2 separate regions of the Homo sapiens genome follow, and region 2 is linked to region 1. A link means that fine-mapping ties the variant in region 1 to the expression of a gene that starts in the linked region. Tissue or cell type: whole blood. Region 1 holds a variant in brackets; the other region holds the start of a gene. All regions are shown on one strand. Distances are between the middles of the regions.

Region 1 (8,261 bases):
TTGAGGAGGTTCCTTGATGCATGAAAGTTTTTAATTCATTTTGAATTTTAAACATTAAAATTTTAATTTAGATAAATTTTGACACTGTCAAATCCAAGGTCATGAAGATTTACCCGTACGTTTTCTTCTAAAACTTCTATCGCTTTAGTTCTTACATTTAGGAATTTGACCTATTTTGAGTTAATTTTTATGTATCATTTGAGGTAAAGGTCCAACTTTCTTCTTTTGCATGTAGCTATCCAGGTGTCCATGTATATTTGTTGAAAAGCATATTCTTTCCTATTGACTTGTCTTGGCATACATGTTGAAAATCAATTGATAATACATATATGGGTTTATTTCTGGACTATCAATTCTATTGAGCTATATGTCACTTCAATATTTCATTGTTTTAATTATGTAGCTACGTAGAAATTTCGAAACCAGGAGTGTAAGTTCTCCAACTTTGTTCTTTTTCAAGATGGTTTTAGCTATTTGGGGTCCATTGCAATTCCATGTGAATTTTAGGATCGCCTTGCCCATTTCTGCAAAAAACGCAGTTGGAATTTTGATGGGGATTACACTGAGTCTGTAGATCACTTAGTCATCTTTACAACATCAAGTCTTCCAATCCATGAACATAGGATGTCTTTTCATTTATTTAGGTATTCTTTAGTTTCATTCACCACTGTCGTAGGGTTTTCAGTGTACAAGTCTTGCATCTTCTTGGTTAAAAATATTCCGAAGTCTCTTATTCTTTTTAATAAGAATAAAGTTCCATTTTGTAAATGGCATTATTTTCTTAATTTTATTTTCAGATTGTTTATTGCTAATGTATGGAAATACAGCTGATTTTTGTATATTAATCTTGTATCCTGTAACTTTGCTGAATTTATTTACTAGCTGTAATAGTTTTTGTGTGGATTCTTTAGGGTTTACTACATATAAGATCATGTCATAATTTGCCAGGTGCAGTGGTTCATGCATGTCATCCCAGCATTTGGGGAGACCAAGGAGGGAGAATTGTTTGAGCTCAGGTGTTTTTTGTTTGTTTGTTTGTTTGTTTTTTAATTTATTTTTTTATTGATAATTCTTGGGTGTTTCTCACAGAGGGGGATTTGGCAGGGTCATGGGACAATAGTGGAGGGAAGGTCAGCAGATAAACAAGTGAACAAAGGTCTCTGGTTTTCCTAGGCAGAGGACCCTGCGGCCTTCCACAGTGTTTGTGTCCCTGATTACTTGAGATTAGGGAGTGGTGATGACTCTTAACGATCATGCTGCCTTCAAGCATCTGTTTAACAAAGCACATCTTGTTTGTTTGTTTTGAGACGGAGTTTTGCTCTTGTTGCCTAGGCTGGAGTGCAGTGGTGCGATCATGGCTCACTGCAACCTCCATCTTCTGGTTTCAAGCGATTCTCCTGCCTCAGCCTCCCAAGTAGTTGGGATTACAGGAGCACGCCACCATGTCTGGCTAATTTTTGTATTTTTAGTAGAGGTGGGGTTTCACCATGCTGGCCAGGCTGGTCTCAAATTTCTGACCTCAAGTGATCTGCCCGCCTAGGCCTCACAACGTGCTAAGATTATAGGCATGAGCCACCATGCCTGGCCTTTACACTGATTTTCATATGTTCAACTACCTTGCTTGCATTCCCATGATAAATCCCACATGGACACGATGTATAATCTTTTTAACATGTTGCTGGATTGGATTTGCTAGTATTTGGTTGAGGATATTTGCATCTATATTCATAAGGGATATTGGTCCGTATATTCCTTCTTTTTTTTGAGACAGAGTCTTGCTCTGCTGCCCAGGCTGGAGTGCAGTGGTGCGATCTGGGCTCACTGCAAGCTCCGCCTCCTGGGTTCACGCCATTCTCCTGCCTCAGCTTCCCGAGTAGCTGGGACTACAGGTGCCTGCCACCACACCTGGCTAATTTTTTGTATTTTTAGTAGAGATGGGGTTTCACCACATTAGCCAGGATGGTCTCGATCTCCTGACCTCGTGATACACCTGCCTCAGCCTCCCAAATTGCTGGGATTACAGGCGTGAGCCACCACGCCCAGCCTGGTCTTTATATTTCTTTCCTTGTGAGATATTGTCTGGCTTTAGTTTTAGGATAATACTGGCACAAGAGAATGGGTTATGAAGTATATTCTTCTCTATTTTTTGGAACAGTTTGTGGATTGGCATTTATTCTTTATTTGCTCCTAATCGTTTCTCTATTGGAAGTTTTTTGATTACTGATTCAATCTTGTGTTTGAGGTCTATTCAAGTTTTCTGTTTCTTCTTGAGGAAGTTTTGGTTTCTAGGCATTTGTTCATTTAATCTAGGTTATCTAGTTTGTTGTCATACAATTTTTCATAGTGTTCTATAATTCTTTCTGTATCTGTAAGGTTGGTAGTAGTTTTTCTTTTTAAAATGTTTTATTTATTTTATTATTTATTTATAGAAACAGAATCTCACTTTATCACCCAGGCTGGAGTGCAGCTGTGTGATCATAGCTCACTGCTACCTTGAATTCCTAGGCTCAAGGGAGCCTCCTGCCTCAGCCTCCCAAGCAGCTGGGATTACAAGCACGTGCCACAGTGCCTGGCTAATTTTTACATTTTTTTTTTTGAGATGGAGTCTTGCTCTGTTGCCCAGGCTGGAGTGCAGTGGTGCATTCTCGGCTCACTGCAACCTCCACCTCCCGGGTTCAAGTCATTTTCCCACCTCAGCCTCCTGAGTAGCTGGGACTATAGGCAAGTGCCACCATGCCCCGCTAATTTTTGTATTTTTAGTAGAGACAAGGATTCACCATGTTGCCCAGGCTGGTCTCAAACCCCTGACAAGTGATCCGCCCACCTCGTCTTCCCGAAGTGCTGGGATTACAGGCGTGAGCCACCGCGCCCAGCCTAACTTTTAAACTTTTTGTAGAGATAGGGTCTCACCATCTTGCCCAGGCTGGTCTCGAACTCTTGGGCTCAAGGAATCCTCTCGCCTTGGCCTCCCAAAATGCCAGGATTACAGGCATAACCACTATGCCTGGCCACATTTTTATTTTTAATTTTTATTCATTCATTTATGTATTTACTTTTTTTTTTCTTTTTTTTTGAGACGGAGTTTCACCCTTGGTTGCCCAGGCTGGAATGCAATGGCATGATCTCGGCTCACCGCAACCTCCACCTCCCAGGTTCAAGTGATTCTCCTGCCTCAGCCTCCCGGGTAGCTGGGTTTACAGGCATGCGCCACTATGCCTGGCTAATTTTGTATTTTTAGTGGAGACAGGGTTTCTCCATGTTGGTCAGGCTGGTCTCGAACTCCCGACCTCAGGTGATCTGCCAGCCTCGGCCTCCCAAAGTGCTGGGATTACAGGCGTGAGCTACTGCACCCAGCCTATGTATTTACTTTAGAGACAGCATCTTGCTCTATCACCCAGGATGGAGAGAAGTGGTACGATCATAGCTCACTGCAGCTTTGAACTCCTGGGCTCAAGGCAATCCTCCTGCCTCAACCTCCCCAGTAGCTAGGACTACAGGCACGAGACACCATGTCCAGCTAGTAGTAATTTTTCTACTTTCGTTCCTTTTTTTTTTTTTGAGACAGAGTCTCACCCTGTTGCCCAGGCTGGAGTGCAGTGGCAAGATCATAGTTCACTGCAGCCTCAATCTCCTGGGCTCAAGTAATCCTCCTGCCTCAGCCTCTCAAATAACTGGGACTACAGACATGTGCCACCACACCTGGCTAATTTTTTAATATTTTATTTTTAGCAGAGACAAGGTTTCCTTATGTTGCCCAAGCCGGTCTTGAACTCCTGAGCTCAAACAATTCCCCCGCACTGGCCTCCAAAAGTGCTCAGATTACAGGCGTGAGCCACTCCAGCCTTATTCCTAACTTTAGTAATTTGAGTCTTCTTTTTTTTTTTTTGGTCAGTCTAAAGTTTCATCAATTTTCTTGATCTTTTTGAAGAATCAACTTTTGTTTTCATTGATTCTTTCTGTTGTTTTTCTCTTTTCTATTTCATTTATCTCCACTCTTAATTTTTATTCTTTCTTTTGCTTGCTTTGGGTTTAGTTTATTCTACTTTTTCTAGTTCCTTAAATTGGAAGTTTAGGTTATTAATTGGAGATCTTTCTTCTCTTTGATGTAGGTTTTTACAGCTATAAATTTCCCTTTGAGTACTGCTTTTGCTGTATTCGATAAGTTTTGGTATGCTGTATTTTCATTTTCATTCATCTCATCTAATTTCTCTTGTGATTTTTTCTTTGATCCGTGGGGCAGTTAAGAGTGTGTTGCTTAATTCCCACATATTTGTGAATTTTTCACTTTTAATTCTGTTATTTCTAATTTCATTCCTTTGTGGTTGGAAAGATAATTCATATGATTTCAATTCTTTAAAATTTATTAAGACTTATTTTGTGGTCTAACATATGGTCTATCCTGGGGAATGTTTTATGTGTACTTTGAGAAGAATGTATATTCTGCTATGGTTGGGTAGAGTTAGCACTGTTCAAGTCTTCTATGTCCTTATCTAGTGTGTAGTTCTAGCCATTATTGAAAGTGAAGTATTGA[C/T]GTTTCCAACTATTCTTTTTATTTATTTATTTATTTATTTATTACTTTTTTTTATTTTTTGAGACAGAGTCTTGCTCTGTTACCAGGCTGGAGAGCAGTAGCACAATCTTGGCTCACCGCAACCTCCACCTCCCAGGTTCAAGCCATCCTCCTGCCTCAGCCTCCCAAATAGCTGGGATTACAGGCACACACTGCCATGCCCAGCTAAATTTTGTATTTTTAGTAGAGACAGGGTTTTACCATGTTGGGCAGACTGGTTTTGAATTCCTGACCTCAGGTGATCTGCCCACCTCGGCCTCCCAAAGTGCTGGGATTAGAAGCATGAGCCACTGTGCTCAGCCGATATTTCCAGCTATTCTTGCTGGCCTGTTTCTACTTTGAATTCTGTCCATTTTTGCTTCAAATACTTTGAGGACTCTCCTGTTAGGTGAAATATATAATTGTTATATCTTCTTGATGAATTGAACCTTTTATCATTACAAAATGTTTCTCTTTGTCCCTTGTAACAATTTTTGCCTTGAGGTCTATTTTTTATAATATTAGGATATCCACTCCAGCCCTCTTTTTGTTAGTTTTCATGGAATATATGTAGTATTTAAATACAGAGTCCCTTGTCACTCAAGCTGGAGTGCAGTGGCTGCAGCCTCAAACTCCTGGGCCGAAGGGATCCATCCTCCCACCTTAGCTTCCTGAGTAGCTGGGACTACAGGTGTGTGCCACCATACCAGGTTTTTTTGTTTGTTTGTTTGTTTTAGTAGATAGCATAACTTCGTTGCCCAAGCTGGTCTTGAACTCCTGGCCTCAAGAAATCCTCCCACTTCAGCCTACCAAAGGGCTGGAATTACAGGCGTGAGTCACTGCCCCTAGCCTGGAATATCTTCCATCCTTTCACTTTCAACAATTTGGGTCATTTGAGCTAAAGCGAAGCTCTTGTAGACAGCATATATAGTTGGATCATGTGGGGTTTTTTTTTAATTTTTTAATTTTATAATGGAAAGCTTCACAAATTTGCATGTCAACCTTGCACAGGGGCCACGCTAATCTTCTCTGTATCATTCCAATTTTAGTATATGTGCTGCTGAAGTGAGCACTGGATCATGTTTTTTTTAAAAAAAATCAATTCTACTAATCTCTGCCTTTCAATTGGATAATTCAATCCATTTACAGTTAATGTAATTACTGATAAGGATTTATTCCCATTTTGCTATTTTTTATATGCATTATATATTTTTGTTTTTTTGTTCCTCAACTCCTTCATTATTGCCTTCTATTGTGTTAAATATTTTCTAGTGCCCCATTTTGATTCTCTTTTTTTCTTTTGATTCCCTTCTTTTCTTTTCTTTTAGTTATTTTCTTAGTGGTTGTCTTGGATATTGAACAATTTGGCTGGGCATGGTGACTCAAGCCCTACCACTTTGGGAGGCTGAGGTAGGAGGATTGCTTGAGGTCAGAAGTTTGAGACCAGCCTGGGTAATAAAGAAAGACCCCGTATCTAGCCACCCCCCCACCAAATTAGCCAGATGTGGTGATGTGCACCTGTAGTCCCAGCTACTCAGAGGCTGAGGTGGGATGATCACTTGAGTCCAGGAGTTCATGGCTGCAGTGAGCCATAATCGCAACACTGCACTCCAGCCCAAGCAACAGAGCAAGACCTGGTCTCAAAAACTGCAACTACAACAAAAAATTTAAATAATAATATTTAACAATCTAATTCTAATTAATACCAACTTAGTTTCAATAGCATGCAAAATCTTTGAACCTCTATAGCTTCATCCCCTACCTTTCATGTTTTTATTGTCAGTAATTACATTTTTATGCCTTACATGCCCATCAACATAGATTTATGGTTATTGTAGATGTATTTTAAATTATATAAGGGAAAAAAGAGGAGTTTAAACTAAAAATACAGTAATACTAACTTTTATATTTATCTATGTATATTTACCTATGTATTTATTTTACTGATGTTCTTTATTTCTTCATGTGGTTTTGAGTTACTATCTAGTGTCCTTTAGTAGCAACCTGAACAGCTCCCTTTAGCATTTCTTATATGGCAGGTCTACTAGCGACAAACTCTCTCGACTTTAGTTTATCTGAGGATGTCTTGAGTTCTCCTTTTTTTTCTGAAGGATAGCTTTGCCAGATATAGAAATCTTAGTTATATATAGATAGATATAGAAATCTTAATCCTCTTTTGTTTGTTGGTTTCAGCATTTTCTGAATATATCATCCCACTATCTGGCCCCCATGGTTTCTGATGAGAAATAAACTGTTAATCTTATTGAGATTAGCTTATATGTGATGAGTCACTTTTCTCTTGTTGTTTTCAAGATTCTCTCTTCAGGCGGGGAATGGTGGCTTACGCCTGTGATCCCAGCACTTTGGGAGGTCGAGGTGGGTGGATCACTTAAGGTAAGGAGTTTGAGACCAGCTTGGTCAACATGGCGAAACCCTGTCTCCCCTAAATATACAAAAATTAGCCAGGCACGGAGGAGGCAGATGTTACAGTGAGCTGAGATCGTGCCACTGCACTCCAGCCTGGGCAACAAAGTGAGATTCTGTCTCAAAACAACAACAACAAAAATCAAGATTCTCTTTTTATCTTTGTCTTTCAATAGTTCGATTCTAATGTATCTTGGTTTTGATCTCTTTGTGTTTATCCTACTTGGGATTCATTAGGCTTATTGAATGTGAAGATTGAATCTTCCATTACATATTGGAAGTTTTGGGCCATTATTTCTTCAAATATTCTGTCTTCTTCTTTCTCTGCCTCCTCTCCATCTGGGACTTTCATTATGCATATGTTGTTATGCTCGATGGTATTCCATGGGTCTCTTAAACTCCATTTGCTTTTCTCCATTCTTGTTTCTCAGATTGTTAATCTCAGTGGACTTATCTTCAAGTGTGCTGATTGTTTCTTTTGCCTGCTCTAATCTATATTGACCTCCTCTAGCGAATTTTTATTTCAGTTATTATACTCTTCAACTCCAGAATTTATTTTTCTCTTTTTTCTTTTTTTTTTAAATGTTCCTCTTGGCATATACCTAAAACTCCAGGATTTCTATTTGTTTTCTTTTTATAATTTATCTTTATTTATACTCTATATTTAGTGAGATATAGTTCTCATGGTTTCCTTTAGGTCTTTGAGTAGATTTAAAATAGTTGATTTAGGCCAGGTGTGGTGGCTCACCCCTGTAATCGCAGCACTTTGGGAGGCCGAGGTAGGTGGATCACCTGAGGCCAGGAGTTTGAGACCAGCCTGGCCAACATAGTGAAACTCCATCTCTACTAAAAATACAAAAATTAGCCAGGCATGGTGATAGGTGCCTATAATCCCAGCTATTCGGGAGGCTGAGGCAGTAGAGTCACTTGAACCTGGGAGGTGGGGGTTGCAGTTAGCTGAGATAGTGCCCCTGCACTCCAGCCTGGGTGACAAAACAAGACTCCATCTCAAAAAATAATTAATTAACTAATACAATAAAATAGTTGATTTAAAGTCTATCTATAAAGTCTAATGTCTGTGCTTCCTCAGAAACAGTTTCTTTCTTTTTTTTTTTTTTTTTTTGAGACACAGTCTTGCTCTCTCACCCAGGCTGGAGTGCAGTGGCTCAATCTCAGCTCACTGCAACCTCTGCCACACGGGTTCAAGCGATTCTCCTGCCTCAGCCTCCCAAGTAGCTGGGATCACAGGTGCGTGCCACCACACCCAGCTAATTTTTGTATTTTTAGT
Region 2 (8,000 bases), 610 kb after region 1:
AACACAGCAGAGGTCACAGCCATGTGTAGTGGGCACTGCTACACGAGGAGCGCACGTGCACCATGGGAGCATAGAGGAGGGGCCGCAGCCTCCCGAGGGGCCTGGAGGTCTCTGGGAAGGATAAGCAGGACCGGGGTAGGGAAAAAGGGGGCAGGAGACATGGGAGGAGGGAAAAGGGAGGCTCTTCCAGCCAGAGGGGGAGCATAAGCCAAGGCCTGGATGAGTGAATAGTGTGGTGGTGCCAGGAAGCACGGGTGACCAGCAGGAAGGGGTGGGGAGGAGAGGACTGGCCACAGGCAGCCTCAGGAGGGGTTGTGGACAGGCTGGTGGAGGGTTACAGAGCAGTGCCGCCAGGCTTGGCTGAGTGGATACAGGGTGCAGACAGAAGTGAGTAGCGTGGGGGCCAGAATGGAGTGTGGCTTGAGCTCTGCTGTTACAGGGACTTGGGTTCAAATCCCACTTCTGCCTCTCATTAGCTGCAGGAACTCAGGGAAGATACATCATTGTCGGGAGCTAAAATTCTTCCTCTGTAAAATAGGGATTTACTAGAACAGAGTATATGCCCATGATATAGTGGAAACTCAATCAAATGAAGCTACTCCCTTTTTCAAACAGGCTGTGAAAAGCCAGAGTCTGCTGAACAAGGGCTGCAGCCCCTGGCTTTGTCCTGAAGACAGAGTGAGACTGGGGCCCAACGTGGACTCAGAGGGCTGGGCTCCCACCGCCACCTGGTGGCCCGGTGGGAACCTGCAGCTGAGCCAGGTCCTGGCAAGGTGAACTTCCGGCTGTGGCTTCTTCCTGAGCTTGCTAGCACCAGCTCCTTTGTACAAAATTTGGCTCTGCTGCCTCCCTGCCAACCTGTCCTGCATCCAGCCAGGGCCAGGGCTAAGCCACCTGCTTCAGAGTAGCCTAGGTCTGTAGGGAGCAAGAAGAACAATAAGATTGGTTCCATTTGCTGAGCAGTGACTAAGAGCCAGGCCCAGTTCTAAGTGTTTTTGAGCATGTCTCATTTAATCTTCCCAACAGGCCGGGTGTGGTAGCTCATGCCTATAATCCCAGAACTTTGGGAGGCCAAGGCGGGTGGATCACCTGAGGTTGGGAGTTCGAGACTAGCCTGATCAACATGGAGAAACCCCATTTCTACTAAAAATACAAAATTAGCTGGGCGTGGTGGCACATGCCTGTAATTCCAGCTACTCGGGAGGCTGAGGCAGGAGAATTGCTTGAACCTGGGAGGCGGAGGTTGTGGTGAGCCGAGATTGCGCCATTGCACTCCAGCCTGGGCAAAAAGAGCAAAACTCCGTCTCAAAAAAAAAAACCCAAACTAAAACAAAACAAAACTTCCCAACAGCCCTATGGAGGAAAGATGAGCCCAGTGAGGAAACTGAGGCACAGTTAAACTATTTTGCCCAAGGTCACACAGCCAGCAGGTGTCCAGGTCTGCCTGGCTCCAAAGCTGGTTCCCTTTTGGCCATATCATGCTGCTTTCTCGAGGGGCTGGAGGGAAGTGGAGGGTGACAGAGGTTGCCCTAGAAAGGACATGGGTTTGTGGCTCTCAGAGCCTACCAGGGACTGGAACACACAATGAAGTTGTGAGTTGGCCTCACTCCAAGCCCAGCCTCCAGCAGCACTACCCTCCAAGAAAGTGGCCTGCTCCCCATCATGATAATCTGTCTTTTACAGAGCCAGAAGAGGGTTTAGGGACCAGTGCTATCCCTGGTTTCAGTGGCCTGAAAGGATGGAAAAGGAAAGGAAGTCAAGTGAGGCCTCCAGGACTCTGCTTGATCAACACCACACAACCACTGGAGGTAGGCCTTAATTTGCCTTATAATGCAGATGAAGAAAAAGAGGCGCAGAGAGGTCTGTAAAAGGTCATGCAGCTGGTCAGTGGCAGGCTGAAATTTGAATCCAGATATGTTCAAGGCTTGTTTTGGTTCAAATCAGTGGGCCTGGAGCAAAGCCCAGGGACATGGCCAGCCTCCCACACTGTAGATCCCAGCTCCAGACCGGCCCACATAAGCCCCAAGGTTAGGAACGGTCACATGGTCATTCTTCACGATTCCTTCTGTGACCGGTACAATGTCTATTACAGAGCAGGTAACTGTTACTGTTTTACTCTGAATGCAAGACCCAGATAAGGGGCAGAGTGGCTCTGAAGGGACTCAAGAGGCTGCAGCCCCAGGCCTGGCTGGGACCAGCAGCCTCCAGGAAACAAAGAAAAGCAGGGATCAGACCCTGGGAGAGAGGATGACCCTCTCTCTTCACCCGTGAGCCTCAGGAGGCAATAGCATCTCTCAGTCAAAGTGTAAGGAGCTTTAGCTTGCCCAAGGCTGGGATCCTGCTTTGAGACCATGCTGCCATTCCCGTCCCGGCCCTGTATGACTCACCATGGTGTGGAGGCTCTGAAACAGGCTGAGTTCACACCGTTGCACTGAGCTGCTGGAGGATGGACAATCCTGTGCTACCTGGGTCTGAGTACAGTGGAGGCAGCAGCAGCACCTGCAGGAGTGGGTAACGATACAAGCTGCGGAAGGAACTCGCAGTCGACTGGCACAATCACGCCTTCAGCACCCTAGTAATTAGGGAGCTGCCCCAGACTTCGGTCCAAGTCCAAACTCTAGTACATGGGCTACGGATGGAGAAGAGTGTGGGGCTGACCAAGGTTCATGCCTGCACTTCACTGCCAGAAGACAGATCAATCCATGTCAAGCACAGGTCTGCCTTTATGTCCAGGAACAGCACCCACTTCATCACTAAAGGACAGTGATCCTCAGAATAACTATCTTTTACACGGGCATCACATGCAGCGAAAAAGTTAACAAAGCTCGTCACACGCTTGCCCTCACTGGCCTTGGCACCAAAAGGGAAGGGAATGGGGGGAGCTAGCCAGGTTTGTGACCCATTTTACTTCTGGGAAACAGACTCAGAGAGCTCTAGGGACTTGTCCAAGGTAATACAGGTAACAGCCAGAATCTAAACCAATGTCTAGTTTTTCTACAGAGTGTGTTTTTACTACTGATAATTCAGTGCCTCCAAAGTCAGGCAGAGTCTCTGCTATGGGAAAGGCAAGATGTAAACCACGATGACTTTCTAGCTTTTCCTCAGTTCAGCCTGGTTCAGCAGCGTGTTGGCCTCTGTGTGGGTGCACAATAGGAAGAATCAACATAGCTCTGCCTCAGCCTACTTGGGGTTGTGGGGAGGGTCTTAGGTAAACCAATTCCTCCCTAAGCCTCAGCTTCCTCATCTGTAAAATGGGGGTTGGCTCCTCTCTGGCATTCTGCGAGTGTGCCAAGCCACGTGGTATTCCTCTTGTTCCCGGGGAGCCTGTTTGATGTGGGGTACCCTGGAGGCTGCAGGGCTGACGGCTCTCCTGGCTCATTAAGGTTCCCTACGGAGAAATACTGGTTTTGTGTTTGAGGTTCGAATTTGTAGAGCAATAGGGGCACTAATAACGTTGGGCAAGCAGACCGGTGGGCCCTTTGAAGTCTGAAGAATCAACGCGCAAAAGGGAGGAGGTGAGCAGGTGGTCGTTCAAACGTCAGGCGAGGGCACCAGCTGGATCTGGAGGAACTGAGACAGTGAAAGGAAAGCAGGCAAGGTTCTAGTCTGGGATATGCACGAATCGCGGTCTCCCTTCCCTCTCTATGCCTCCGCAGTCCTTCCCGTTCCCAAAGGAGGAACAGCCCGAGGGCTCCTGGAGCAACGGAAGGAGGACTGGATGCGGGGAAGGGCAAAGGGCGCGGAACGGGGTGGGGAGTCTGCGGGCGAGCTCGGAGGACACTGGCGCACCTCCCCCGCCGGCTCACGGCCGCATCCGCCACATCCGAAGGCGCCGCGACTTCCCGGAGACCCCGAAGCGTGCGCTCTCATCCGGGTCCTGCGGGCGCTGGCGGAAAGAGGCGAGGCGGTGCCTCCGGGGGCGGGGCCTCCTTCGGTTGGCGGCCTCGGGCTTCGGGAGTCCTCCAAGAGGCCAGGTGAGGCCGTCCCGTGATGCCCCGCGCCCCGGCCGCTCTGGCCTGCAACGTGTCTCTGGGGCGGAGGCAGCGGCAGTGGAGTTCGCTGCGCGCTGTTGGGGGCCACCTGTCTTTTCGCTTGTGTCCCTCTTTCTAGTGTCGCGCTCGAGTCCCGACGGGCCGCTCCAAGCCTCGACATGTCGTACAACTACGTGGTAACGGCCCAGAAGCCCACCGCCGTGAACGGCTGCGTGACCGGTGAGGCTGCCGGGGCCGGAGACCCCGGCGAGTGAGGGAGTTGGGGGGAGCCGCGGCCTAGGGAGGCCCGCCGCCCCGGGGGCGGCCGGGCAGGAGTGGGCCCGGCGAATGGAAGGCGCTGGCGGCCGAGGAACCTCCCCCAGCACCGCGACCTCGAAAGAGTCGTCCCTGTACGCGCTTTTTGGGGGTTGGAAGCCGCTCTCGAGGGTCCCCTTTCGTCCTGGGGAGGTCATTCGGCCTCGAGAACAGGGCGGGCCCAGTGAGACAGAGGAGTGTGAGTTGGTTGTGCGGTGTCGTTTGGGCCCGGAGATTGGCTTTCTGTGGCCAGGAAAAGGGGAGGTGGTAATGACGACTTTGGGGTCAAGATTTTCCTGTGGGGAAGTCTGGGGGGCCCAGGAGGTGGAGGGATGTGAGGAATGCCCGCATTATCCCACAGAGGGAGAGGAGCCCTCTTCAGGCTAACCCCTTTGCCTGGGGCTGTTGTTTACATGAGGGCCCTGCTGGAGAAGAGGGTTTGGTTTGCCTGGCCCAGTGCTGGGTTTGCCTTGTTGACGATGCGCTTGGATTGTTAAGGACACCGATGTTCAGAACCCGGGAAGAGTCATCTTAACCCACATTCTCAGCTGAATATGCAGACCCCAAGCTTGCATGTTTATATACACCCTAATCATGATTCCAAAACAAAACTGTTGTTCAGAGTTGGAGGTAGCTGAGTGTGGATGGAGGTATTGGTAGACTGCCAGGAGGGCAGGGGGTGTGGACAAAACAGTGTTTTCATATAAAGCTCTGGGACTTCTTCATTTGACTTGGTCTGTCAGATAAAAGTTTTGTGAGACTTTAGATGAAGACTGGAAGAAGTGAACACTTTCTCCGGCATTCTCAATTAGAGCCTGCCACTGTAACTGTAATAGAGTAAAATTGGAGGGGCAAGAGGCATGAGAAGGGATTACGCAGTCATTGTCATTTGGAGGACACACGGCTCTTAGGTCCAGTCCAGTTTTCTTAGTCTGATTAGGGAAGTAGCTTTGTTGAATGCATGAACTGAGACTCTTTGAGGTGCCGGATTTGGCAAGAAGGGGAGTAGCTGGAGGGAGTTGGAGAAGTATGTGAAGTAAATGAGAATTCTGGAGGTATTTAGACATAAGTGATAGGATTATTTTGAAGGGATGGGAGGCCCTTCCCCTGAGTTCAAAAGTTAGAGGGTCTGTTCTTTCAGGACACTTTACTTCGGCCGAAGACTTAAACCTGTTGATTGCCAAAAACACGAGATTAGAGATCTATGTGGTCACCGCCGAGGGGCTTCGGCCCGTCAAAGAGGTGGGCATGTATGGGAAGATTGCGGTCATGGAGCTTTTCAGGCCCAAGGTAAGTGTTGCAGTTGGGACAAGCAGTGGAGGGGGAACTGTTGGTCGTAGGTTGTTTTATGTTATTTTTGTTTGTTTATTTATTTTCTTTGAGACGGGGGTCTCACAGTGTTGCCCAGGATGTCTTGAACTCCTGAGCTCAAGCAATCCCTCCACTTTAGCCTCTGGAGTAGAGTAGCTGGGGTATTGTAGGCATGCCACCGTGCTTGGGCTGTGTTAGGTTGTTTTGCGAATTCTTGGGATGGGTGGAATATGCTTTAGGAGAAAAACTCTTCTCTTTTTTCTCTCTTTGGATAGCAAATTTCAGTATGTACTCTTGACCAAGCTTTCTAGAAGTAAAAGGAGAGATTCATTAGGGAAACATTTATGAAGTTGACTTCTTTAGAAGGGAGAAATTAAAGCAGTTTGTTTCAGAGGATAGGCTACAGAGTGGGGCAGTCCTGGCTTCATTTCTTGTTAATTCTGACTTTAGGTGCCACTTAAGGCACCTTTCAGATCAAATCCCCTGGGTTGTTGTGACGATGAAATGATTCAGTAACATAGGGCCTATCATATAGCAAGCATTTACAGTTATGTTAACAATTACCAGGCCGGGCATGGTGGCTCACGCCTGTAACCCCAGCACTTTGGGAGGCCGAGGTGGGTGGATCACGTGAGGTCAGGAGTTCGAGACCAGCCTGGCCAACATGGTGAAACCCCATCTCTACTAAAAATACAAAAGTTAGCCGGGTGTGGTGGCACGTGCCTGTAATCCCAGCTACTTGGCAGGCTGAGGCACAAGAATTGCTTGAACTCAGGAGGCGGAGGTTGCAGTGAGTGGAGATGGCGCCCATTGCCCGGTGACAGAGCGAGACTCCATCTCCAAAAAAAAAAACACCAAACAAAAAAAACAATTACCATCAGTATTTTCATTATTTTAGCGCAAATGTTTTCATCCAAATCACCACCACATTGCTTTATGTTGTCTTAACTGAATCTGGCAAGAAAGCAGTGGGTTCAAAATTTTAATTATAACCCTTTGAACAAAACAGCAATTTTTTGGAGTCTGTGTTAAATAAGTAGGACTTTGTTGATCCATTTTAGCTTCCGTTGTTATTCCCACATTTTTTTTCCTCTTTCTTCAAATACTTGGGGAGGAGTGGAGGAGGCATTACATTCATCTTTCAGAATTTGAATGGGATGATTGAGATTAGCTTGAGATTGAAATAGATGAAGACTTTGTTTGTAGAACAGAGAGATGGAGAATCATGAAAGTGAGAACTAGATGTTTACCAGCTTCAGTTCTGGCTTTTTGTACATGCCCTTAGGGTGTATGTGTACCTAGTGTGGGTTACAAGCTCACCATGTATTTTCTCTTTAGGGAGAGAAGAATTTGGAAAATTCTTAAAGAATTTGGTGTGCTTAAAGACTGGACAGGTTGTTCCTGTTTTAAAAAGAACCTCTTTTGATAGCATAATATTGGTTTCCAGGGGGAGAGCAAGGACCTGCTGTTTATCTTGACAGCGAAGTACAATGCCTGCATCCTGGAGTATAAACAGAGTGGCGAGAGCATTGACATCATTACGCGAGCCCATGGCAATGTCCAGGTGAGGTGGCTGCTTTAGGCCAATGAAAGTTTTCTAAGTAGGGCTGTCATGATTCATGGAAAAAATTAAAGTGCTGGGGGCAGCTCTCTATTCGATCAGAGAAATAAGGAGAAGACACTATGGGTTTGAGCTTTTTGGAGAAAGGACTCCTGTAGTTCACTCAAGACCCAAGGGACAGGGTAATAATTCATTGAGATTCAGTGTTTCATGAAAAAGGCATGCACTGACATTGGGGCTCCAACTATTTGGCCTATCAAATAGATCCATTAGTTTTAATACCTCTCCTAAAATTTTTCTGCACAAGTGGTGCCCAGCGTCCTCTGTTGCTCTGTGGATGTTGAGGTTCTTCCCTAATCCCGATTTTGTTTCTCAGGACCGCATTGGCCGCCCCTCAGAGACCGGCATTATTGGCATCATTGACCCTGAGTGCCGGATGATTGGCCTGCGTCTCTATGATGGCCTTTTCAAGGTTATTCCACTAGATCGCGATAATAAAGAACTCAAGGCCTTCAACATCCGCCTGGAGGAGCTGCATGTCATTGATGTCAAGTTCCTATATGGTTGCCAAGCACCTACTATTTGCTTTGTCTACCAGGTACTGGATCAGGAAGAGAGAGCGAGAAACTGTGAGGTTGATGTGATAGGAGTTGTTTTTGCTAACTGGCATGTCTGGGTTTGGTAGGATAGAGAGAAGTGTTTAATGTGTTTGTCCTGAAATGTTTTGAACAACACAATTAATATGGGTCAGACTTTCGTTGCTTCTTGAGTGCAGTAGTACTTATTGTGGAGGCAGCAAGCTCTCTGGGGCTTGTAGCAGGTTTTAATCCTGAGATTACACT

What was found. PIP is the estimated chance that this variant, and not a neighbour inherited with it, causes the effect.
Region 2: it holds the start of TKFC, and the variant in region 1 is fine-mapped to the expression of TKFC in whole blood (TOPMed, PIP 0.98).

The regions. Positions count from the first base shown.
Region 1 is chr11:61,935,255-61,943,515 of GRCh38, reverse strand. It overlaps a transcript of RAB3IL1 not described here and the pseudogene RNU6-1243P. Among named protein-coding and RNA genes, the nearest start is that of BEST1, 11 kb to the left of the region's middle. RefSeq lists an enhancer at 1,009-1,663 and a silencer at 4,848-4,996. The variant C/T (reference allele first, on the strand shown) is at 4,532.
Region 2 is chr11:61,329,119-61,337,118 of GRCh38, reverse strand. It overlaps TKFC (triokinase and FMN cyclase), which reads right to left and starts at 3,891. Exons shown (of 18, transcript NM_015533.4): 1 at 3,790-3,891; 2 at 2,388-2,499. The coding sequence starts at 2,390. DDB1 (damage specific DNA binding protein 1) reads left to right here and starts at 4,014. Exons shown (of 27, transcript NM_001923.5): 1 at 4,014-4,211; 2 at 5,428-5,576; 3 at 7,045-7,161; 4 at 7,535-7,756. The coding sequence starts at 4,151. RefSeq lists enhancers at 3,407-3,929, 3,930-4,452 and a silencer at 3,752-4,011.